Linked DNA regions of Homo sapiens. The protein of the gene in region 2 purifies or fractionates together with the protein of the main gene of each other region. This does not show direct contact. Each region holds a gene or a part of one and is shown on either strand. Other genes may lie near its edges.

Evidence for each region.
Region 1: the proteins of STRAP (region 2) and TSN purify together in Homo sapiens (affinity purification with mass spectrometry; 2 studies listed by BioGRID and IntAct, with this or other methods). This does not show direct contact.
Region 3: the proteins of STRAP (region 2) and TGFBR1 purify together in Homo sapiens (affinity purification with western blotting; 3 studies listed by BioGRID and IntAct, with this or other methods). This does not show direct contact.
Region 4: the proteins of STRAP (region 2) and RPRD2 purify together in Homo sapiens (affinity purification with mass spectrometry; 2 studies listed by BioGRID and IntAct, with this or other methods). This does not show direct contact.
Region 5: the proteins of STRAP (region 2) and ZNFX1 purify together in Homo sapiens (affinity purification with mass spectrometry; 2 studies listed by BioGRID and IntAct, with this or other methods). This does not show direct contact.
Region 6: the proteins of STRAP (region 2) and LARP6 purify together in Homo sapiens (affinity purification with mass spectrometry; 2 studies listed by BioGRID and IntAct, with this or other methods). This does not show direct contact.
Region 7: the proteins of STRAP (region 2) and SNRNP70 purify together in Homo sapiens (affinity purification with mass spectrometry; 3 studies listed by BioGRID and IntAct, with this or other methods). This does not show direct contact.

The regions. Positions count from the first base shown.
Region 1 is NC_000002.12:121,758,651-121,762,150, reverse strand, and holds part of TSN (translin), read right to left. Parts: intron 3,442-3,500; coding exon 3,345-3,441; intron 743-3,344; coding exon 627-742; intron 1-626. UniProt on the Homo sapiens protein: DNA-binding protein that specifically recognizes consensus sequences at the breakpoint junctions in chromosomal translocations, mostly involving immunoglobulin (Ig)/T-cell receptor gene segments.
Region 2 is NC_000012.12:15,885,387-15,888,886, reverse strand, and holds part of STRAP (serine-threonine kinase receptor-associated protein), read right to left. Parts: intron 1-3,500. UniProt on the Homo sapiens protein: The SMN complex catalyzes the assembly of small nuclear ribonucleoproteins (snRNPs), the building blocks of the spliceosome, and thereby plays an important role in the splicing of cellular pre-mRNAs.
Region 3 is NC_000009.12:99,150,113-99,152,402, reverse strand, and holds part of TGFBR1 (TGF-beta receptor type-1 isoform 1 precursor), read right to left. Parts: 3' UTR 1-2,290. UniProt on the Homo sapiens protein: Transmembrane serine/threonine kinase forming with the TGF-beta type II serine/threonine kinase receptor, TGFBR2, the non-promiscuous receptor for the TGF-beta cytokines TGFB1, TGFB2 and TGFB3.
Region 4 is NC_000001.11:150,458,147-150,461,646, reverse strand, and holds part of RPRD2 (regulation of nuclear pre-mRNA domain-containing protein 2), read right to left. Parts: intron 1,588-3,500; coding exon 1,330-1,587; intron 1-1,329.
Region 5 is NC_000020.11:49,247,058-49,250,557, forward strand, and holds part of ZNFX1 (NFX1-type zinc finger-containing protein 1), read right to left. Parts: intron 2,655-3,500; coding exon 210-2,654; 3' UTR 1-209.
Region 6 is NC_000015.10:70,830,158-70,833,657, forward strand, and holds part of LARP6 (la-related protein 6), read right to left. Parts: intron 2,960-3,500; coding exon 1,895-2,959; 3' UTR 1-1,894. UniProt on the Homo sapiens protein: Regulates the coordinated translation of type I collagen alpha-1 and alpha-2 mRNAs, CO1A1 and CO1A2. Stabilizes mRNAs through high-affinity binding of a stem-loop structure in their 5' UTR.
Region 7 is NC_000019.10:49,105,778-49,109,104, reverse strand, and holds the end of SNRNP70 (U1 small nuclear ribonucleoprotein 70 kDa), read right to left. Parts: intron 1,481-3,327; coding exon 1,393-1,480; intron 1,311-1,392; coding exon 662-1,310; 3' UTR 501-661; downstream 1-500. UniProt on the Homo sapiens protein: Component of the spliceosomal U1 snRNP, which is essential for recognition of the pre-mRNA 5' splice-site and the subsequent assembly of the spliceosome. SNRNP70 binds to the loop I region of U1-snRNA.

The DNA.
Region 1 (3,500 bases), on a different chromosome or scaffold from region 2:
TGTGGTGGTGCATGCCTGTAATTCCAGCTACTCAGGAGGCTGAGGTAGGAGAAATGCTTGAACCCAGGAGGTGGAGGTTGTGGTGAGCTGAGATTGCGTCATTGCACTACAGCCTGGGCAACAAGAGCAAAACTCCATTTCGGAAAAAAAAAAAAAATACAAAAAATTAGCTGGGCATAGTGGCAGGCACCTGTAATCCCAGCTACTCGGGAGGCTGAGGCAGGAGAATCACTTGAACCTGGGAGGTGGAGGTTGCAGTGAGCGGAGATTGCACCACTGCACTCCAGCCTGGGCGACAGAGACTCTGTCTCAAAAAAAAAAAAATATTTACATAGCACTTATACTGTATTAGATATTTTAAGAAATCTAGAGATGATTTAAAGTATGTGGGAGAATGTGTATAGGTTATATGCAAATACTACACCAGTTATATAAGGGACTTGAACATCCTCAGATTTGGGTATTGGAAGAGCTCTGGAAGCATCATCCTCAGATACCAAGCTACAACTATAAGTGGTTTTTAGTTAATTCTTGTTTGTTTTAATAAACAAAGTACAACCACCCTTTCCACCAAAAAGTAAGCAACCATGCCTGATTCTGCAGATCCCACTAATAAAGACACTTACTGCCAAGAATTTCTGTAACTGCTTCTCGAGTCACTAGTGTTTCTGTTTCCAAATACACAACAAATGCTGCCAAGAAGACCAAGCGCTGCAACACAAACCTCCAGTGCTCATGAAATCTGCATGAAAATAAGCACATTTAGCCTCCAAGGTTAGGGACCTTCAGAAAGATGGGTTTAATACAGCCATGTTCAAACGGTTTAGAAATGCGATCATTTTTCAAATAAAATCTTACACAAACCCCCAATATATAAAGAGAAATATGACATTTAGCATTAATTTTACAAGTTCGAATTTATAACAATTAAGTTTAATCAGTGACAAATATGGTCTAATTTTGATGAGTATGAAAATTTACGCCGGGTGCGATGGCTCACGCCTGTAATCCCAGCACTTTGAGAAGCAGAGGCAGGTTGATCAATCTGAGGTAAGGAGTTCAAGACCAGCCTGGCCAACATGGCAAAACCCCCTCTCTACTAAAAATACAAAAATTAGCCAGGCGTGGTGGCAGGCGCCCATAGTCCCAGCTACTCGGGAGGCTGAGGCAGGAGAACTGCTTGAACCTGGGAGGCAGAGGTTGCAGTGCGCAAGATCACACCACTGCACTCCACCCTGAACGACAGAGCGACACTCCGTCTCAAAAAAAAAAAAAAAAAGACAGAAAAAAGAAAACTGAAGATTACAGATGACAAGAGCAATTGTGCCTTCTAAATTTAATCAGTAAGAACAGTGATACTGCTCTGAAAAAAATAAAAATTTGTAACTGATGATTGAAGACAACTGCAGTTATGTATCATCCTCAACGTATTCCTCCATTTTGATTTGAGTGCAGAATACCAAGAAAATTCTGATTCACAAAATTACCATTTGCAATCACTAAACAAATGCACTTAAAATAGAATACTGAGCTAGAAGCCTGAAAAAAGGAAATTTTACAACCTGTGGATATTTATGCAATGCCTCCTGATTCTCAAATGTGGCAATACATTCAAAAAAAAGGTCTCAACATAATGCAGGTCACACAAACCCTTCTGAAGGCCAAATCCAGCCAGAGGGCAGCCTGTGTGTGACCTCCAGAGAAGATGGTCTCTAAAGACCCCACCTGTTCTACTGTCCTACCTCTCTCTGTGCTTCAGCTATTACAACAGCAGTCCCTGACCTTTTCAACACCAGGGACTGGTTTCATGGAAGACAATTTTTCCACAGAAGGGGGGCGGATGGTTTCAGGATGAAACTGTTCCACTTCAGATCATCAGGTATTAGATTCTCATAAGGAGCATGCAACCTAGATCCCTCGCATGCACAGTCCACAATAGGGTTCGCACTACTATGAGAATCGAATGCTGCCACCAATCTGACAGGAGGTGGAGCTCAGGCAGTACTGCAAGTGATGGGAAGCGGCTGTAAATACAGATGAAGCTTCACTCGCTCACCTACCGCTCACCTCCTTCTGTGCATCCCAGTTCCTAACAGGCCACAGACCAGTACCAGTCCATGGCCTGGGGGTTGGGAACCCCTGCCTTACAGCAAGGATCAGCAAATGTTTTCTGTAAAGGGCCAAGTAGTAAATATTTTAGGCTTTGTGGGACGCTTTCACTGTTACATATTCTTATCTGGGATTTTCTTTTTTTTAACAACTCTTGAAAAAACAAAAGCAATTCTTAGCTCCCAGAGGCAGCAGCCACTAGTGGTTTGTCAACCTCTCCCTTAAAAGAATATTCTCATAAGGTTATACTACCCACCCCCTGAAAATACTCATCCTATTTACTGCTGATATATACGTCTTAAAAGAACATCTTTTTCAGTAAGAAAATTAAAATAAGTAGAAACTTTTGATTCAGGTGCAGTTTTTCCCAGTTTAACACCTATGAAACCAGGAGACATTTCACAATCCATGTTTCACAAGTTGTTTTTTTTTTTTAGATGGAGTCTCACTCTGTTGCCCAGGCTGGAGTGCAATGGCACAATCTTGGCTCACTGCAACCTCCGCCTGCCTGGTTCAAGCGATTCTCCTGCCTCAGCCTCTGAAGTGGCTGGGGTTACAGGGATAAGCCACCACACCTGGCTAATTTTCGTATTTTTAGTAGAGACGGGGTTTCGCCATGCTAGCCAGGCTGTCTCAAACTCCTGACCTCAGGTGATCTGCCCACCTAGGCCTCCCAAAGTGCTAGGATTACAGGTGTGAGCCACCACGCCTGGCCCATGTTTCACATTTATGACTGGCAAAATTTTCCTTCCCTACTGGTACATAAAATAATGGTGTATCTTAAAATCAACAGTGTTGATTTTAATAAGAAAACATGGCATAAAATATTAGCTAATTACATCACTTGGCAGTGAAATTCAAGCTTCAAAGTAAAACTCGACTCCATATATATACTGCCACCTAATCTCATTATTTCACTAACTATAGTTCATCCAATTTCACAAGAAACTTGAATATAGCAAAAAGATATTCTCACTTTTGACCCTCATACCACATTTTCTTTTTAATTGCTTTTTCACTGCAAAAGTAATACATGTTCCTTAAGATTTAGACAGTAAAAAGAAGAAAAAAATAAAATCACCAATTTTTGTCATGACCATTATTAGTTCGGTTTTTTCTCTTTTTGTTACTTCTACACAGGATGTTTGCCTAGTTGTAAGCAATCATTTGGTACACATAATTTTTCTCCTTTTTTTTACTTAACATTATAAAATAATGCTATTTTTCTTACAAACCTGTAATACTGTTCAGCAGGAAATTTGGTCTTCAAAGATGTTAGATGTGTTTTTACTGTACCAAAATGTTCTCGAGCTTTCAAACACCTCTTTGGAACTAGTCACAAAAGATAACCAAATGAAAAACTTAACCAAATTTCAAATACAGTTCTTGCT
Region 2 (3,500 bases):
ATTAAATATATATCATTCTATACTTAGTGCTAAGGCACAAATGGGAGACAAAAAATACCCCACAGTAGGTTCTTGCCATAGTAGAGCTTTAGCTGAGGAGAAAAACATGCATTAAATATCACATTTAAGAAATATAATTAAAAGACATATATATGGCTATAAAAACTCAGAAAAAAGCACCTAGATATTGTCCAGAAAATGTAAGTAACAGAGCTAGCCGTCGGAAGAAGCAAAGAGAAATATATCAGGGGAAAAAGAAGGGAAGGCTATTCTAGATAAGCATTAATAGCATGTGCAATGTGGTTAATGAATATGAAAGACCATCTAACAGGAATGCTCATGATACACTACCAAAGCTTGCAATATTTAATAATGTGGGTCATGTGAGTGGCTGAATAAATATGTTCTGAAAGAAATAATGTCAACTATAAGTAGCCTTGCTGCTAAACTCCCTAGTATTCATTTCTCTTTGCCCAGGAAACTTGCTCCTCTCTCTGTCATTCCAATGCAACTCTCTGGCCCCAATCTACTTTCCCAACCTCATTTTGTATTGTTTCTCTGAATCTAGCAACACTAGATTATAAACCACTCCTCAAATAACTTACGTATTTTCTTCCAGGCTCCTATGTTCTTGTTTATATTATTCTCTTAAGTCTGTATTTTACATTCTTAGCTATTAAAGTTCTACTCACCCTTAGGGCTCATTTCAAATGCTATCTTTTCTTTGAAACTATTTATCCTCAACTCCAATAATTAACCATTCCTTTCTGTTCTCCCACAGAACTCCACTTATTACGGTGCTTAAATTTGCTTTGTTTTTTGTTTACATATATCCTTAATCACAGTGAAATGCATTTCATGGTTGTGGTAAGGGTTCACAAGTATTAGAATGACAGAAAGCATCAAAAGTGAAGAAAACAACAAATGTATCTAAAATTACTATTCTAATTATTCACAAGTCTCCAAAGAAACCCGGGCAATGTCCTTTGATATGCTAATTTCAAGTTTATTAAATAATCTCCCATAAACTTAAAACCTCTCTCTCTTTTTTTTTTTGAGACAGGATCTTGGTATATTGCCCAAGCTATACTTGAACTCCTGGCCTCAAGATCCTTCCACCTCAGCCTCCTAAGTAGCTACAGGCTAACGCCAACATGGCAGCTCTAAAATCTTAAGATTCTGCTTAGACTGTGTCTATTCAAAGGTGAGAAGAGAGTTGGAGTGACCAAAGTAGTAATATTAACCAGAGAGGTAATGTGTCTGTAGTTTTTCCTCCTATTTAGAAACAGTACTAAAATAGAGGCATGACATTTTCTGACAGGGCATGTACTAACTCTGGCAGATTTCCATTATTCACAGTAAGAGCCCTAAAATGGATCTAATCTAAATGTTTCCTAATGTATTATTCAATCTCCAGGCAAGAAATTGACATATATTAGTTGGCCACAGGGCTCAAATCAAGACAGTAAAGCGCTATTAACAATACCCTTTCAGCAGCTAACCCTCCAACATTTTCTTCACATCCCACGAAGTACTTGTCATCTCCTTAAACTACTGTTACCTCTTATACCCCAGTTTCTTGCAAATAATAATGCTGCCTGATACTTTCCATATCCTCAGAATGAACTTACCGTAAGTCTCATAATAGGAGCTGCTTAACTTACTTATTTAAACCTTCAACAAAACAGGCCAGTTTAAGATTTTTAAAAAATTGCCCAAATACCTTAACATGTTGACCAAGTCATCTAGGAGATAATACCATTTTCGATTTATCAAGAACCTTATTAAAACTAAAATTAGATATTTCTATTGGCTTTACAAGAAAGAAAGAGTGATACATTGTGATTACCTATAAATTCCTGGACCCAATCCCAGATCTACTTAAGCCCTCTTGGGAGCACAGCACAGAATTGTCTTTACTTTGGCACTCTTCCCAAATAGATACAAAGAGATGGTGTTTTAGGGACACTGTACTCAACACTGGACTCAATTGCCCGAATTACTCCAAGATAACATTCTACACTAGTCCACAGACCTATTCTGCTAAATTTCTCCACAAGAAACGGGACCAAATTCCACTTCTAAATGACCACACCATAAATGAGTTTTCCAAGAAACGTAAGAATGGAGGGAAAAAAAAATTGTTTCTAAAAATGCTTTATACCAACCATGACTAATCAGGTAGGCTGTGGGGAGTAACTTCTTGGAGAGAATACACACACACACAAACACGCACATGAAAACACGCTCCTACACCCCACAGACAAGACATAGAGGAAATGAGGGATAAATCTCAACTAGCATTTATTGAGCACCTACTATGTGACAGAGATCATATTGGACTTCAGGGATATATGGTGGAGAAAGATCTCTCTGTTCCTCCAATAATCTCATGGGTCTTAGTCCCATTTTACAGATATGAAAGCCGACATTTAAGAAACATCCTGCCATGGTGGGCAGATCGCTTGAGCCCAAGAGTTCAAGACCAACCTGGACAACATGGTGAAGCCCATCTCTACAAAAAACACAAAGATTAGCCAAGCATGGTAGTACACGCCTGTGGTCACTATTCAGGAGGCTGAGGTTGGAGAACTGCTTGAGACTGGGAGATAGAGGCTGCAGTGAGCTATGATCACGCCACTGCACTCTAGCCTAGGCACCTAAGACCCTGTTTCAAAAAAAAAAAAAAATCCTATGATGATCAAACTGGAAATACACAGCATAGTTAGCACACGAATGCAAGCCCACCTAGTGCCAATGCTTGTTATTATTTTCCACTCTAACACAGCACCTAAAGCCTTAACTGAGGAGGGGGAAAAAAAAATCACAAAAATCTTCCTTCTTGACATTTAAATCTATTCAATCTTCCTTATATGAGGCCAAATAGTTTGAAGGCTTTAGCCATATTAGTTTCAAAATAATATGTGATTTTGATCAAGTGCGGGTGGTGATAGTTTACATGGTAGCTATCATCGTTACTTTACATATGTAACACTTTCATAGGTGTAATAGACTTCAGGCAATGTTGTAAGTATTCGAAACATATTAACTTATTTAATATTCAAAACCAACCTATGAATTAGGTACCATGACAGAAAAAAAAATGGTTAAATAAAGTGCATGAGGCCACCAATTCAAATTCAGGTCATCTGGCTCCAGCCTTCATGCTCTTAATACACCACTTGTAAACACAGACATTGAGACTTGAAATGTTAAGAAAGCATAAAAACAACACTGTTTCAATAAACAAGAGCATACAGTCACGTATCTGCCACCACAGTCAATCAGCCTTCATTTTTTCATTCTAAAATTGGTATGTTTAATGTACTTAAAATGAAGGAGGCAGCAGATTTACAATTGCTCCTTAGTGTGAGGTTGTTAAAAAAAAAAAAAAAAAAGGCCAGGCACGGTGGCTCACACCTGTAATCCCAGCACTTTGGGAGGCCAAGGCGGGCAGATCACTTGAGGTCAGGAGTTCGAGACCGGCCTGGCCAACATGG
Region 3 (2,290 bases), on a different chromosome or scaffold from region 2:
AATTACAGGCTCAGCTCTTCAGACCTTACCCTGTCTTATAGGCGATACAACTGGCCACTGTTTCTGGCACAACTCCACTGCCACAGGAGCCACCTTGCTGCCATCCCACTCCTCATCCATGGCTGAAGTCAAAGCAGGGGCATCCCAAGCCTCATCTGCTCAATCTCCAAACTTGGAGACCCCTCCCTTCCACCTCTAATGACTGAAGGAAATGGAAGTGGGTCCCACAACTTCCATCAGCCGTTTTACTCTAGGTCTCCAGAGCAGCCTTCAGTCAAACGGCTGTGGGGGAGGCAACGGTCTCTGCGTCAGGGACCAGCAAGCAGGAGAGCAGGTTCCAAGAAACAGCTGGAGACAGAAAGGATGGACCAGGGATGTCTATGCCTCACTAAGTCGTATTTCCCCCATCCCCATTTCTCCTGGCTACTGACAAAATGAATATGGACGCACAATTTACCAGAAGATGTTTTAGCCACGTTGAATCTTGGAAGGTGAGCATCCTAGGATGGGCAGTATAAACAACTGTGTTTTTAAATGACAAAATTATTACTCTAATCAAATTTATCTGCAGTTATCGACAGTAATCATGATCCATCCCACCTTTTAAGTTTCTTTCATTTTCAATATCAGCCAATTGTGGTTTATCAAACCATCCCTAGCCAAAAAAGGAATTAACTGCAGTAATACGTAAAGTCAATTTAGAACTAAACTCCAACTTTAAAAAAATTCCCTGATTCATCAAAAGTACATTTTATCCACTTAGGTAAGAAAAGTATAATTGTAACTCAATCTTTGATTCAATAAAAAATATCTTCAGCAAAAGTGGATAACCTTACATGAAAGTGAGAAATCATGTATTACAACTTTAAATCAGACAACTTTTGGTATATTCTTAAAATTATATAAAAATAGTTTTAGTGATAAAATGCATTGGTCCCCTGGATTTCATAAAGCAGATCTGGTAGGCTTAGAAATGGCCCAAAAACAACAACAAAAAAAAAAAAACAAAAAAAAAACCCCCACAAAAAAAGTACCTGATCACAGAATTAGAGATTATTATTAAACAAGTAATACAACACAACTATAAAAACAAACCTCTCAAACTCATTCATTTGCTTCAATGAAATTATGGTAACTACAGAAAAAAACTCAACTTTGTAGTCAAAATAGTAACCTCTAAGCATTTTTCCCATGATGTTTTTAAACACATGAAATTGACACTAAATTCCTATGTAATATGTCACTCATTCTAAAATTACTTTGGTTTTAAGATCAAATAGTCTTTCAAATTTATTCTACGTATAAGAGATAAGACATTATCAGAATGCAACTCATTCAGTGTAAATGGCCACTTTCTCTTCCTGACCAAAATACTGTATGGGTTACTCTGACCCTGTATCGGGGAACTGATAGCACTATAAAGTCGAAGTCTTGCCTCAGAGCTATGATAGTTTTTTCTCCCCTCAGAATAAGATCACAGTGATAAAAGGACTTCGAAAACTGTAAAAGCCCTGCAGAGACTTCATAGCATTGGAAGTAAAAACCAGTTATTATAAGCTAGTTTCAACTTAATGTAAGAAGACCATGACAAGTTTGCTTTCAATATTTGACCAAAGACATCTGTAAATGGAGAAAAACCTATACTCAGAATGTTCTTTAGCTACCACCTCTCCCAAGTAACAAGGGTGCACTGAATGCATTACATAAATTACATGTAAGCAGTTGCAATGTACGCACACATAAGGAAACACTGAATTAAAAGCTGCCTTCCTCAAAGTGTAGTGAGACCTCAAAACCACACTAGCTCTAACCTCAGTTACAAAGACAGAGGATCCACCGAACGTTTACTCCTACATACATAACAAATGTGACTTTCTTGCACATCTGTTATCTATTCAAATTATTAACTACCTTCGCCTTCCTAGAAAAAGGCCTATTATTTAATATTAACCATATTCTAATTTTAAATGTAATTCATGTCTTAAAAAATAAGTCTTTGAACAGATAAAGAAAAAAATGGCTTACAGAATACCACATAACTTTTCACAAGCAGCTAGACAGACTTTCCCTTTTAGAAAAATTAGTCTGTATGCTACAAATATTAAAGTACTATAAGCATCTAGAGTGCCACTTGATTTTTTAAAAGTATACTTAGACAACACAATTAAAATGCAAAAGCTTGATGTGAGAATATTCAAACATGACCATGCTAATAATTTACTAATTAATGCCACTTCATTTCTTTAGTGGCTTAAGCACATTTTGGTAGGAGAAAGGCATTTTCAGAATA
Region 4 (3,500 bases), on a different chromosome or scaffold from region 2:
TGTCTCCAACTCCTGGCCTCAAGTGATCAACCTGCCTCCACCTCCCAAAGTGGTGGCGTGAGCCACCACACCTGGCCCTATAGTATTCTTCATAACAGTAAAAAACTGGAAACATACTAAGTGCCTAATAATAAAGGATTAGATAAGTTACCACATGCTATGCAGCTATTAAAAATGATGTAGAGAAATATTTAATGATTCATAAAAACATTCAAGATATGTAATTAACTTTTAAATAGCTAGTTTTGAAACAGTATATGCAATACACTTACTTTTTTAAAAATTGTTATACATATTTAATTCTCCAAAACATTCATATACACATATACTTTTAAGGGTAAACACAAGTGGTTTCCTTTGGGGTAACAGGATTATAGATATTTATTAAAAAATTTTTTTCATTTAAAATTTTTTATTTAGAGATAGGGTCTCACTATATTGCCAAGGCTGGTCTCGAACTCCTGGCCTCAGGCAATCTACCATCTCAGCCTCCCAAAGTGCTGGGATTACAGGCATGAGCCACCACGCCTGGCCTAGATATTTATTTCATTCTCTTTGCTTATTTTCTAATTTTTCTATAATGACCGATTATTGGATTATTTTTTAATTTAACAATTAATTTAGCTGGGTGCGCTGGCTCACGCCTGTAATCCCAGCACTTTGGGAGGCCAAGATGGGTGGATCACCTGAGGTCAGGAGTTTGAGACCAGCCTGACCAACATGGTGAAACCCCGTCTCTACCAAAAATACAAAATTAGCTGGGCATGGTGGCACATGCCTGTAGTCCCAGCTATTTGGGAGGCTAAGGCAGAATTGCTTGAACCTGGGAGATGGAGGCTGCAGTGAGTGAAGTTTGCACCATTGCACTCCAGCCTAGGTAACATGACTGAAACTCCGTCTCAGAAAAAAAAAAAAAAATCATTAATTAAAAAAAATCAACAACAGACTGGGCACGGTGACTCACGCCTATAATCCCAGCACTTTGGGAGGCCGAGGTGGGTGTATCACCTGAGGTCAGAAGTTCAAGACCAGCCTGGCCAACATGGTGAAACCCCATCTCTACTAAAAATACAAAAATTAGCCGGGCGTGGTAGCAGGTGCCTGTAATCCCAGCTACTTGGGAGGCTGAAGCAGCAGAACACTTGAACCCGGGAGGCAGAGGTTGCAGTGAGCCAAGATTGCACCACTGCACTCCTGCCTGGGAGACAGAGCGAAACTCTGTCTAAACAACAACAACAACAACAACAACAACCCCCCCAAAAACAGATTAATGATTCAATTTAAAAAGATGGAAATTAACTTTTTATCCTCCTTACTGGGCTTACTTACCAGTATTTTTCATGACTGATGTTAAACTGCTAAGGATGGAACTGATCTTTGCCAGATCCACATTAGCCAGGTTTGGCAAAGCCAATGCTGGGGAAGGGGAAAGAGAAGTATTCACAGGCTTTGGAAGAGGTGGAGTTGCTGTCATGGTCACAGGCACTGGGGTACATGAAGAGGCCTTTGAGATATTTTCTGTTGGCTTTGTAGGTACAGAAGTGGATACAGCTGACTTCTCTGCAGGTTTTTCCTTCCTGTCCTCGACTGTTTCAACAAAGAAAAGAGATATTACATCCTACTACTTTCCAGACTTTGCTTCCTATATGAAATAACATGTCCTAATATTTCCGGACTTGGGGGAAAAGGCACTACTTTAGAGAAAACAACGACTCACTTCATGCTTTTTTGAAAAAGTCATACTCTTCATAATTTATGATAATTCCCACCTTTAATATCTGCTTAAAAGCAATTTCCAGCTGGGGACAATGGCTCATGTGAGGTCAGGATTTCGAGACCAGCCTGGTCAACATGGTGAAATCCTGCCTCCACAAAAAATACAAAAAATTAGCTAGGTGTGGTGGCAGGCGTCTATAATCCCAGCTACTACAGAGGCTGAGACACGAGAATCGCTTGAACCCAGGAGGCAGAGGTTGCAATGAGCCGAGATTGTGCCACTGCATTCCAGCCTGGGCAACAAAGCGAGACTCCCGTCTCAAAAAAAAAAAAAAAAGCAAGCAATTTCCAGAATTTATCTTGTATCTTACTTTTCAATGATTCCTTTGCATTTTCTTAGTATTTGTGTATTAAATCTGTACAATTCAAGAAGCATGTTATTATTTGGTACACATTTGTGTTCTGTCTTTTGGAAATGATATTTTTCATAAATTGTCCTGTGTTTTTCTTTTCCATTAACCTGAGAACTTTCTAAGAACTTCTGTTCTTAGAAACAGAACCTCTATAGTGTTCATTGTATTTTCCTCTGGCTTCCTGAAATTGCCCTATTGGGGGGTGCAATCAGGCACTAGCTAATTTGAAACTACAATGTTTTAACTCTCAATCACCTTGAATAATTATTTTTAATGCTTTAAGGGCTGTATCAATAGTGCATTGAATTCAACAGGAGTCAAACTATCTAATAAGATTTATGAAGGCTGGGGATATAAGAGAAACAATTCACCAAATCAGGTTATTTCTGAAAGTGTGATTAACAAACTGACTTTGGAATTCTTGATGGTCAAAAGTGACAGAGAATAAGGAATTCCAGTATAAGTGACCCCTCATCCCAAAACAGTGCTATTTAACATGAATACAATTTAAGCCACATATGCCACATATGTAAGTTTAAATTTTCTAGCAGCCAAATTAACAAAAAAAGAATCAGGGCCGGGCATGGTGGCTCAAGCCCACCTCCCAGCACTTTGAGAGGCCGAGGCAGGCGGATCACTTGAGGTCAGGAGTTCGAGACCAGCCTGCCCAACATGGTGAAACTCCGTCTCTAATAAACATACAAAAAATAGCCGGGTGTGGTGGTATGCACCTACAATCAATCCTAGCTACTCGGGAGGCTGAGGCAGGAGAATTGTTTGAACGCAGGAGATGGAGGATGCAGTGAGCCAAGATTGCGCAACTGCACTCCAGCCTGGGCGACAGAGGGAAACTCTCTTTTTCTCTCAAAAACAAACAAATAAAAAGAAACAGACACATGTAATTTAAAAATTCTATTTTATTCATCCTAATATATCCCAAATATTTTCATTTCAGTGTTATAAATAAAAAATTATTAATGAGATATTTTAACTCTTTGGGAGAGTTTCTGCCACCATGCTCGGCCTAGTTTCTGGACTCCAATGTGTCTGGTTTTTTTTTTTTGGAGAGAGGGTCTCCCTCTGTCATCTAGGCTGGAGTGCAGTGACATGGTCTTGGCTCACTGCAACCTCCGCCTCCCAGGCTCAAGTGATTCTCCTGCCTCAGCCTTTCCAGCAGCTGGGGCTACAGACGCATGCCACCACGCTGACTAATTTTTATATTTTTTGTAGAGACAGGGTTTCACTATGTTGCCCAGGCTGGTCTCAAAGTCCTGGGCTCAAGCAATCTGCCCGCCTCAGCCTCACAAAGTGCTGAGATTACAGGCATGAGCCACTGCACCTGGCCTCAATGTGTATTTTATACTTATAGCA
Region 5 (3,500 bases), on a different chromosome or scaffold from region 2:
GGGGTTTCGCCATGTTGGTCAGGCTGGTCTCGAACTCCTGACCTCGTGATCCGCCTGCCTCGGCCTCCCAAAGTGCTGGGATTACAGGCGTAAGCCACTGCGCCCAGCCTAAAAAGGATGATAATAAAAAACAAACTTCAGTTCCTTCATTAGGGAGCTGGCCCCAGTCATTCAGTGGCGAGGGCAAAAGGCAGTGGTGTACCATCTTCCTACATCATCCCCTGGATCTCCTCAAAGTTCATCAGGTTGTTGGCCGTGTCAGACCAGGCAGCATGCTGGGCTCCATCCATTTCAGAAGCAAGCTGGTTGCTTCTTTCCAGAGTATGATTTGTGCCACCAATCACTTCCTTACAGTCAGGACACGTGCCCCTCTCCATGGCTCCCCCACAATCGCCAATCACATAGATATGGCCATTGCGGCACTTGAACCAGTGACCACGAGGATAACCTATGGCACTGACAATCTGCACTCGCTCTTCCTCTGAGATGCCCAGGCCAGAGCAGGGAAGGGTGGCTTTCAGAGCTTCCATCTTTTCCTGCACAAGTTGTTCATCCTCTTGGGTGAACTTACATGTTTTCTCAAGGATATTCTGGACACTATAGACCTCTACTGCTATGCTATCTTTCACCTTCTTCTCTGCTATCTTGTAGCGGGTCAGAAGGTTCACCAGGTATGTGAGCCTCTGGATTTCACTTCGGAGGTCACTTAGTTCCTGGCTAGTGAAGCTCAAGCGCTTCTTGGCCAGCCACTCATGGACCTGTTCTAGTCGAGTCCTCACTCTTTTCTCTTCTAAGACATGCATCTTTTTCAGGGAATCCCACAGGCTGGCCAGGTGGTCATAGAAGCTGATGTAATTCTCAACCAGACCCAGGTCCTTCACTGACAGATTTTTCTGGGCCAGCTTCTCCTTTAACATCAGGAAGTCTTCAGGAAGCAGCTGGTGGAGGAGGCTCTTCCTCTCCAGCAGGGCCTTAAGCCGTTCCTGGCTGGTTGCTATTTCCCCTGCTGAGCCCTGGATCTTTTCCTTGATGATTTCAATCTCTTCTAGCCGCTGTTTTATGCTAGTTCCATACCTCAGGTTTTTGCGGATGGGCACCTGGCAGATAGGGCAGACTTTCAATCTGATGGCGACTTCATCATCCTTCTGTTCATTCATGTAGCGGTCTAGGGCTTGCACCTCAAAGATGTGGCTGCAGTCTTCCAGCTGCACAAAGCGGGCATCAGGCTCATCCTCAAAGCCAAAGAATATTTGGGTGACCTCATCCATGTGGCAGATCCGGCATTTCTTGGGGCATGGCTCCCCACAGAGACCAATGCAGGGGTGGCCACAAACTAGCAGCTTAGTACAAGGCACATAGCATGGGGGTCGGTTGCAGGGCTCAGAGCAGAGTTTGGTGCACTGGTAGTGCTGGCAGCGCCAGACACAGGGTTCCACGCAGGGACTACACAGCTCCCCACATTTCTTCTTGCACTGGCTGTGGACACAGCGGTTCTGACAGGTCCGCTGGCAGGGTGGGCACTCACCAATGCATGGTTCCTGGCACTTGTGTGAGCAGATAAGCAGGCGCTTGCAGGGCTGCTGACAGCGTTCATGGAAACGCCCTTCGAAGCAGCTGTGGCAGGAGCCTGGGCAAGGATGCCCGCAGTCCAAGATAGTGCCACACTTTGTGGTACACTTGACTAGCAGACCACCATACAGGAGGCCTTCCACATGACCACATTTTACCGGTTGACTGTGCCCACACTTGAGTTTTATGGTGACCATTTCTGAACACAGCTGCACACAGTCCTCACCACATGGGTGGCTGCATCTGTGCCCACATCTCAGAGACTTGGAGCAAGGCTCCTGGCAGCAGAAATCTGACTCAGGCACGGAACAAGGGACCATTTGTTCATGGCCGCACCGAGGAATGGTTTTGGGCACCTTCACCTGACAAGGCTGACACTCCTGGAAGCAAACAAGGGGACACCGGTGCCCTTCCTGACAGATGACCTTCTGGCATGGCTTCATGCATTGGAACTCCTTGTGTGAAGAGTCATAAGGGTGGCAGGCACGGGTGCAGACATGCCCACAGCCCAGGCGGAACTCGCAGGGCAGGCTGCAGCCTCCTTCGGGTACTTTTTGGAAGTCAGAAGCTTTGGATACTAAGGTGTGGGTTTCAGGGTGGTTCTGGCAGCAGAGCCGGAGCATGGGGCCTATTTGATTGTTCTCTCGAAGTGTATGAATGATCTTGCTCCACAGGGGCACCTTGGCCAGCATCTGCATGTTTCCGATGCAGTACATTCCCTTCTTGGCTCGGGACAAGGCCACACAGATGCGGTTGGATATCTGCAGAAAACCCACCTTGCCTTCTTGGTTGCTCCGCACTAGCGAGAGGAGGATGATGTCATTCTCTTCCCCTTGGTATTTGTCCACAACATGGACCCTGACGCCAGCAAATGTCTTGGCAGGCATCAGTTTGCGCAGGCAGAAGAGCTGCCCGGTATAGGTAGTGAGGATGGTGATCTGGGAAGGCAGGTATTCCTGGCACAGGAAGTACTTGCACAGCTCTACCACAAAGTGAGCCTCATGCTGGTTCTGATGGCTTTTGCCCTCTTGGATTTCCTGTTCAGGAAAGTTGTGTTCTACAAAGAAAAGGTTGGAAGACACCCCCTGACAGGGAAAAGAAGTGACATGTTAAAAGGTTCACTCATGGCACTTGTTTTTTTCTTCCTCTCTTGACATGCACTGGCCACTTACTCTGCTCCAGAGAGAGACCTTGGAAAGCTTTTTGTCCACTCAACATCACTATCTTTAGTTCTTTAGTTAGTCATTGTGTGCTTCATTTTGGGGCCACAGCAAGTTATGAAAATAAAAGATTATGTCTCTTTCAGTTTTCAAGATACTTGTTTGATGTTAATATTTAAAAAAGCTGGCTGGGTACAGTGGCTCACGTCTGTAATCCCAGCACTTTGAGAGGCCGAGGTGGGTGGATCACCTGAGGTCAGGAGTTTGAGACCAGCCTGGCCCACATGGTGAAACCCCGTCTCTACTAAAAATACAAAAATTAGCTGGGCGTGGTAGTGGGCGCCTATAATCCCAGCTATTCAGGAGGCTGAGATGGGAGAATAGTTTGAACCCAGGATGCAGAGATTGCAGTGAGCCGAGATCATGCCACTGCACTCCAGCCTGGGTGACAGACAGAGTGAGACTCCATCTCAAAAAAAATAGAAAATAAAACAGCCATCCACAATCCAACCATTATAGCTGAAAGAACAAGCAGTGCTGTGAGGAGGATGATGATAATGACAGAGCAGCTAACTTACTGAGCACTCCACTGTGCTGACTGCTTTATATACATTACCTCCTTCCATACAGTAATGGGATATGGCAGGAGCCATTATTCTTATTGTCCAGAAGAACCTGATACTCAGAATTTATTTATTTATTTTAAAAAAAGAGACAGTCTTGCTATGTGCCCCAGCCTGGTTTTGAACTCTTGGCCTCAGCTGACAATTT
Region 6 (3,500 bases), on a different chromosome or scaffold from region 2:
ACATTGCTGGAGGCATTTGCCAGTTAACACGAACTCTTCTGCATCTTAAGGGACAAAGCATCTTACTATCCAGATCACAATCACCTGCTAATTTGTATAGAGCCATATCATTTAGGATATACTATCTTTGTCCATTTTCACAAGTTTGGGATATTATTTTCCTACTTCAGCAGCTGCATGTGTGATACTGGCATAATAATTCCTTATGATGGACACTGAGAGTAAGTGAAATGTGTCTAACCCAATGCCTAGCACGTAGGAAGGTGCTGAATAAATATTAGCACCTTTTATGGTGGATTCTTTTTTGAATATGGATAGTAAAGATCAGAAATGTTGAGTACCACTTAGTGGTTAAACAGTGTGGGCTCCAAAGCCAGACCACTAGTTTCAAGCCCAACTCTACCAATTTAGCTGTTAAGCCTTAGACAAGTTAATTACCCAAGTAAAGTCTGTTTTTTTCTGGAATAAAATAGAGATAATACCTGAACATTTCTCTTGTAGTTTTTGGGCAGATTAAATGAGATAATGCATGGAAAGCTCTTAGCATAGTCCCTGGCACCTAATCACTGTTCAATAATTATTAACAAGCTCTATTAAATCCTGCCAAATAGCCAGAGCATAAGCCAACACTGGAATCTAGGCCAATGCTCTTTCTGCTACACCAAGGCAGCTCCTGATGATAACAAACATTAACCCAAGTGAGAAGGAAAGAGAGCTAACATTTATGGAGGGCCAGCTGCATTCCAGACATGGACATCGTAACAAAGCAATTCACAGGGAGATGATGAGGTTCACGGGGCTTAGTAACCTTCCCAAGGTCACAAAATAGTGAGAGATTGGGGGTCAAATGGACTGACCTCAAGTCCTGCAGCCTTTGTCCATCCAGTGGTTCTCCAGCGTGCATCAGAATCACCTGCAGCGTTTGTTAAAACCCAAATTCCAGGCCTTTCTCCCAGACTTTCTAATTCAGTGGGCCTAGGGTTGGCCTGAGAATCTGGATTTCTAATAAGTTCCCAGGTGAGATCAATGCTGTGGGTCCTGGACTGTACACCCTCAGTATACGCCAAGCTGCCTTTGCTCAGTAAAATTCCCTGTGATGAGACACCACTCAGGCTGCCAGAAGCCCAAGGAGAGCCCTGGGGCTGCCCTGGGGTACAGTGAGAAACCCTAAATGCCCTGACTTGATCACTATGCATTATAAACATGTAACAAAGTTTCTCATGTAGCCCATAAATGTGTACAAATAAAAAAATTTTTAAATGTTCTCTTAAAGAAAAGAAAGATGTCTCTGCTAAGCTCCTCAGGGCCTCATGACATACCACCCACAGCTCTGTCAGACAGGCACAGACTTTTGTCAGGCACAATCTATAACCTCAAAGTCAGCACTCCCAGTTGGGTGTTTTATTATTTATTTACTTGACAGGTAACATCGATTTGGTCCTACAAGACACCATGCTATAGGCTTAGCTACTTGCTGTTGCACAAGAGAACTTTCCTGAACTCTCAGGAAGCCCTTGCATGGCCTATCGAGGACAGCTCAGTCACTGAAGGGAAAAATTCCATACCAAAGAAGAGAGAAAAATTCCATACCAAAGAACAGACTTCCCCCAGGGAACCTCCGTCCTACAGCCCTTCAGGGCCATCACACTCACACACATCAGCCATCATCAAAATAGTGGCCATGCTGGGAAGAACAGGAGTCCTGAACTAGAAGGTGGTCTTCAAACCATGGCGTACCGATTTATGTATATTACAGATAGATAAATTAAGAGGTCTACATGAATAAAAAATCTCTCAAAGGGGAACGAATTCCATTCTGTCATGCCAGGTGTTTGTCAGAACCTTGAAAACGAAGGTGGTTTTCAGTGGAGCTTGTATTAAAAATAGAAGGTATTTATACACAGGCCCTGCTCCTCTCATGGCCATGAAATCCTCTGGTGTTGTCAGGACCCCTGGGCAACCTCAGCACCCCTACGGGTAGCCCATCTGCAGTCTGCATCTTCCGGGAGAGCAGGGGACTCGTACCGGGGCTTTTCTCCTGGGTCCCCATCTCGGCTTGGCGACGCCTCCGGACCCAGGGGCTGCCAGAGGGAGTGACGCTGCTGTCAGAGGAATAATCCATACACTTGCGGAAGATCTCAGGGCTGGTGCTGCAGTTCAGTCTACCTTCCTCCGCCAGTGGGGACTTTCTGGAAACGCCTTTGCGTTGGGCCAAGGGGCTGCTCCAAGGACTTGTGCACGGGGAGGCATTTGGACTCAGAAAGAGATTCTGGTGGCCAGACGGGCTGAGCTTGTTGGTGGCCGCGTGCCGTCGGCCCGCCATAGGGGATGTGGGGTTGCTCTCGGGGTCAGAGGAGCTGTTGGCAGAAGACTCATCACCCATGTACTGAAGCTCCTCGACTCTCTTGTTCAGGGACTTGTTCAGGTGGATGCTCGCAGTGGGCTCCTCGTCATGATTTTTGTCTTTGGCAGGTTTCTTTTTGGGTGGCTTCATACCAATCAGGACAGCTTTCATGTTCTCTTTGCCCTGAGATTCTGTGATCATGAACTCATGGGCTTTGATGGCTGCTTCCACCTCCTCGAACTCCACGATGGCGCACTCCTGGGTCCCCACTTGGCTGTAGCGGCTGCTGATCCTCCGGATGTCAGGGGGCAGCTCTCTCCCAGGTTTGAGGATCCGCACTGATGAGATGACTCCAAAAGTCCCAAAAAGCTTGAGCAGGTGTTCCATCACCTTCTCTTGCACCCTTCCATTCTTCTGGGGGGTGGCCAGAGCCCACAGCTTAGGAGACAAGTAGAGATCATAGACCAGGAGCATCTTGCTGGGGAGGTTCTCGTTGGGGAACAGTGGGACGGGGGTGGTCCTCCTCACCTTCCGGTGGTCCTCATTCAACTCAAGGACCACTGAATACTTCAAAGCATGTGCTGTGGTTCTCCAGTCCCGTGTAAGATGTTTCACCTGCAGAACATAAAGCAAATCTGAAATAGTATCTAATGTCCTTGTCCATCCTTGTGTATGCTATAAGCTCCCTCCCTCACTTCCTTATCCCTGTAACACTAGAATCCCTGTATTCTAGTGTCTAGAATCATACGTGGTATGTGTAAACACTCAAAAATCTAGTGAATGAATAAGTGAATGAAAACAAGTTCTACCATTTCAAACAAGGGCACCACAGCAGTGTTGTCCAACAGAACTGTCCATGAAAATGGAAATATTCCATTCTGTGCAAGTTTAGAGGTTAAATTTGCAGGCTCTGGAACAAGGCTGCTGTATACACAAATCAAAGGCCCACCTCTAGCTTGAAGTAAGACTTGGAAAGTTATTCAACCTCTTAGTGCCTCGACTTGCCCTGGAAAATGGAGATGTTAATAGTGCCATCTCAAAGAGCTGTCCTGAGGATTAAACGAATCAATATATACATGTACATATGTATGTACAGACACATACAAACTCATTTACACATAAAACAGAATAGTGTCTAGCTCACAGTGAGTACTAA
Region 7 (3,327 bases), on a different chromosome or scaffold from region 2:
TGAAATCTCAATTGCTGGTGGAACCTCTTCTGTGTTTCTGCTCGTTGCTCCTCTGTCACTACTTATTATGATGTGGGTCCACCCTTCCTGCTCTGCCCCGTCTCACCCGTGCCCAGTGTATTCTGCCTTTCCTCACCCTGTGTGCCGCTCTCCCTTGCAGATGGTAGCTTCCCTTGCATATTCAAAACTGCGGCTTCCCCTGAGTAATCAAGCCCCCTCCTAATTCCCAGCCCCCCACCAAGACAGGGGTATGGTCAGCCCTGAGGAATGTGTGGCAGAGATGAAAAAGAAAAAAGGGTGAAAAACACAAGGGAGACAAGGAGCCCGAGAGGCCGCCTCACCCCACTTTCAACAGCTCTGGCTACTGGGCAGAGCCAGCCTCATGTCCTAACGCTCAAGTTTTAAGTACACCCTGGAAACCAAACCAAGCAGGGCTATCAAGTCAGGAACAACCTTCTGGGGAAAACAGAGCAGTGAGGAAGAAACCGAGGTGCCCACTATCAACAGGAAATTAATTTTATTTTTAAATCCAAGGGGCCAGAACAAATGAGACACCTACCCTTGGAGGACAAACTCAAGTGGCCAAGGTTGGGGGAGGGGATGACAGCAAGGGGCTGGGCAGGAACGCGTCCAAACACAGCAGATGGAGAGGACGACCTCTTCACTCCGGCGCAGCCTCCATCAAATACCCATTCTCCGGAGCCAGGTAGCCGTCGCCGCCCTCAGACTCCATGTACATGTCTCGGCTGTCGTTGCCCAGACCCTCCAGCCCGTTGTCCTGGCCACCGCCCCCACCTCGGGCCTCATCCCTGCCCCGCTCACTGCCCCGCTCCCCCCGTTTGTGCTCGCGGTCACGGTCACGGTCACGATCCCGGTCCCGGCGCCGCTCGCGCTCGCTCCGGTGGCTCCGCCGTCGCTCCCGGTCACGATCCCGGCCCTTTTCCTCTGGACCGTCAGGGCCGTCAGGCCCGAGCTCCCCTGGAGGCCCATCATCAGGGGGCGCGTCACCCGCCTCGGAGGGCTCCGCCATGTCGCCACCGCCGCCACGCAGCTCCTCCTTGCGCTCCCGCTCCCGCCGGGCCCGCTCCCGACTCCGGCTGCTTCGCCGCTTCCGGTCCCGGTCCTTGTCCTTGCTCCGCTCCCTGGAGCGCCTCCGCTCCTCCTTGTCGCGACTCCGTGAGCGCCTCCGCCGGTCCCGGGAGCGGGAGCGTCGCCGTTCTCGCTCCTTGTCTCGCTCCCGGCTCCGCTCTCTGCGCTCCCGCTCACGGTCCCGGTCCCGGTCCCTGTGCGGAAGCGGGGAGGGGCCGGGCCTGGATGAGGTGGGCAGACCTGTGTGGCTGGGCTCCCCCCGTGACCGCCCCCCACCCCAGGACACCGGTCGCCCAATCTTACCTCTCATCGTAGCGGGAGGTGTCATCGCGGCCTGAATGCCGGATGTTCACATCAGCCCCTCCTCTTCTGGTACCACCGAGGCCTCCTCCTGGGGCAGGGCAGACGGACAGAGGGTGAATCTGGGCAGGGACAGGGCCCGGAGGAGCAGAAATGAGCCGACTCCAAGAGCAAAGGGCAGGAAGGCAGCCCCTGGCTTAGTGTTCACAGGGCCGGGTCCCCCCGTGCAGTTCATCCCGCGCACTCCCATCACAAGACAGCCACGTCTTCTCTAATTAACTCACACAAAGCGTTCGCTAGGCAACAGCCGTTACTGGAACCCATGTCTGGCCCCAAAGCGCATCATCTTAACCATAGCGCACTTCACAGCCTCCTCAAAACCCTCCCTTCCAATCATCCTCGCCCTCACAGAAACCCGAAGCCAATGATCTTTCCACCCAAAAATGTGATCTGCTTAGAAGCCTTTGCTGGCGTCCCCCAGCCTAAGGTCCAAACTCCTCGTCAACTGGTGGTAGAGGCAGCAAGAGCGGGCCCTGCTAGCGTCTGAGCCGCGGCTCTTGGCTGCGTGTCCCAGGCCTTTCCCAGTGTCCCCACGCTCACCTTCCTGCCAGTGTCTGTGCATTCTCCTTGCCCTGGACTGGTCTCCCCTTCCTTCTCTGGTGAACTCACGCTCACCCTTAACGCTAGCCCGAACATCCTTTCTCGGGAAGTCTCTCCTCACAGTCCTATGTACTCACAGTTGCAGAAACGCTTCCTTCCCCTGGAGTTTCAGGTTTGCTACCTGAGTCGACCCCTACCTGCCTCTCCCACCAGACTGCAGGGCACCGGAACCGTGGGCATGCCCAGCTCTTGCTCACGGTACCAGCAGGTGGCGCTGCAGCTGGTATAGAAAGGTGGATGTGTGTGTGTCAAGTGAATAGATAGATGAACAGCCCCAAGGCACAGATGATAACCTCATGGTTCTGATGGGGAAACAATCTCAGATCAAGTCACTGGCCCACAGTGACTCAGCAAAGAAGGTGCAGAACTGGGCTGTCACTGCCGTCTGCTGCAAAACCTGCCTTCTCAAGCGCTCCTCTATCTCGCACTGCCTGGAAAAGCTTCCGTGAGGCAGGGCTGAGTTCTGTATAGAAAAGAGGCTGCAGGGAGACATTCTTATAGAAGCAGGCAGCGGACCAGGCACCTGCCATGTCACAGGCACAGGGCAGCTAGACTAGCCTTTCCTATATTCAGGTCATGACCCAGAAATGAGTCCCATCATCAATCTGATGGGTTGCAACCAACATCTTAAGAAACAAAACAGCAGAATACAACTATATACTTACTACATAGAAAAAACTGTTTCCTCAAACTTTAGGTTACAGTATTTCTGCGGGTGCACCGAGTCAAGATGTTATTGGCTAACACCAACAAAAAGTTTGAATGGCAATTGAACTAGAAGATTCTGAGATTCTGGAAAGACTGAGATTCTAGCATTTTCCCGCCCCAACAGGAAACAGCAGAGCTATAAGAACCCACTCCACCCCAGAGAGACCAGAGTAAGGTAAGAACATGCCTGGTAAGCTCCGAGGCTCAGCAGCTGAGAGCGTGGTCTCCCTAGCACAGGCGAGTCCAGAGCCAGGACACAGGGCTGGGAGGCAGGACAGGAGCCCCAAGTGGCTACTACTGCCTGGGTGTCTGCCCAGGGACCATCATCTTCTCTGACAACTGTCACTCAGCTTTGCAGGATTCAGTCCTCAATAAGCATGCCTGAGCAACAGGACCCCAGGCCCAACACTGAGTCAATCAAATGTGCCCACCCCGAAACAAGAGACTCATCCAGGACTGAGTGTAAAGCTGGGGCCTGTGGCCTGCTGCGCTGGGCCAGTGCAAAGAGGCATGGGACCGACCTAGCTGCATGGAGGCAAACGAGGCAGAAGCAAGCTGTGGGCTGTCACA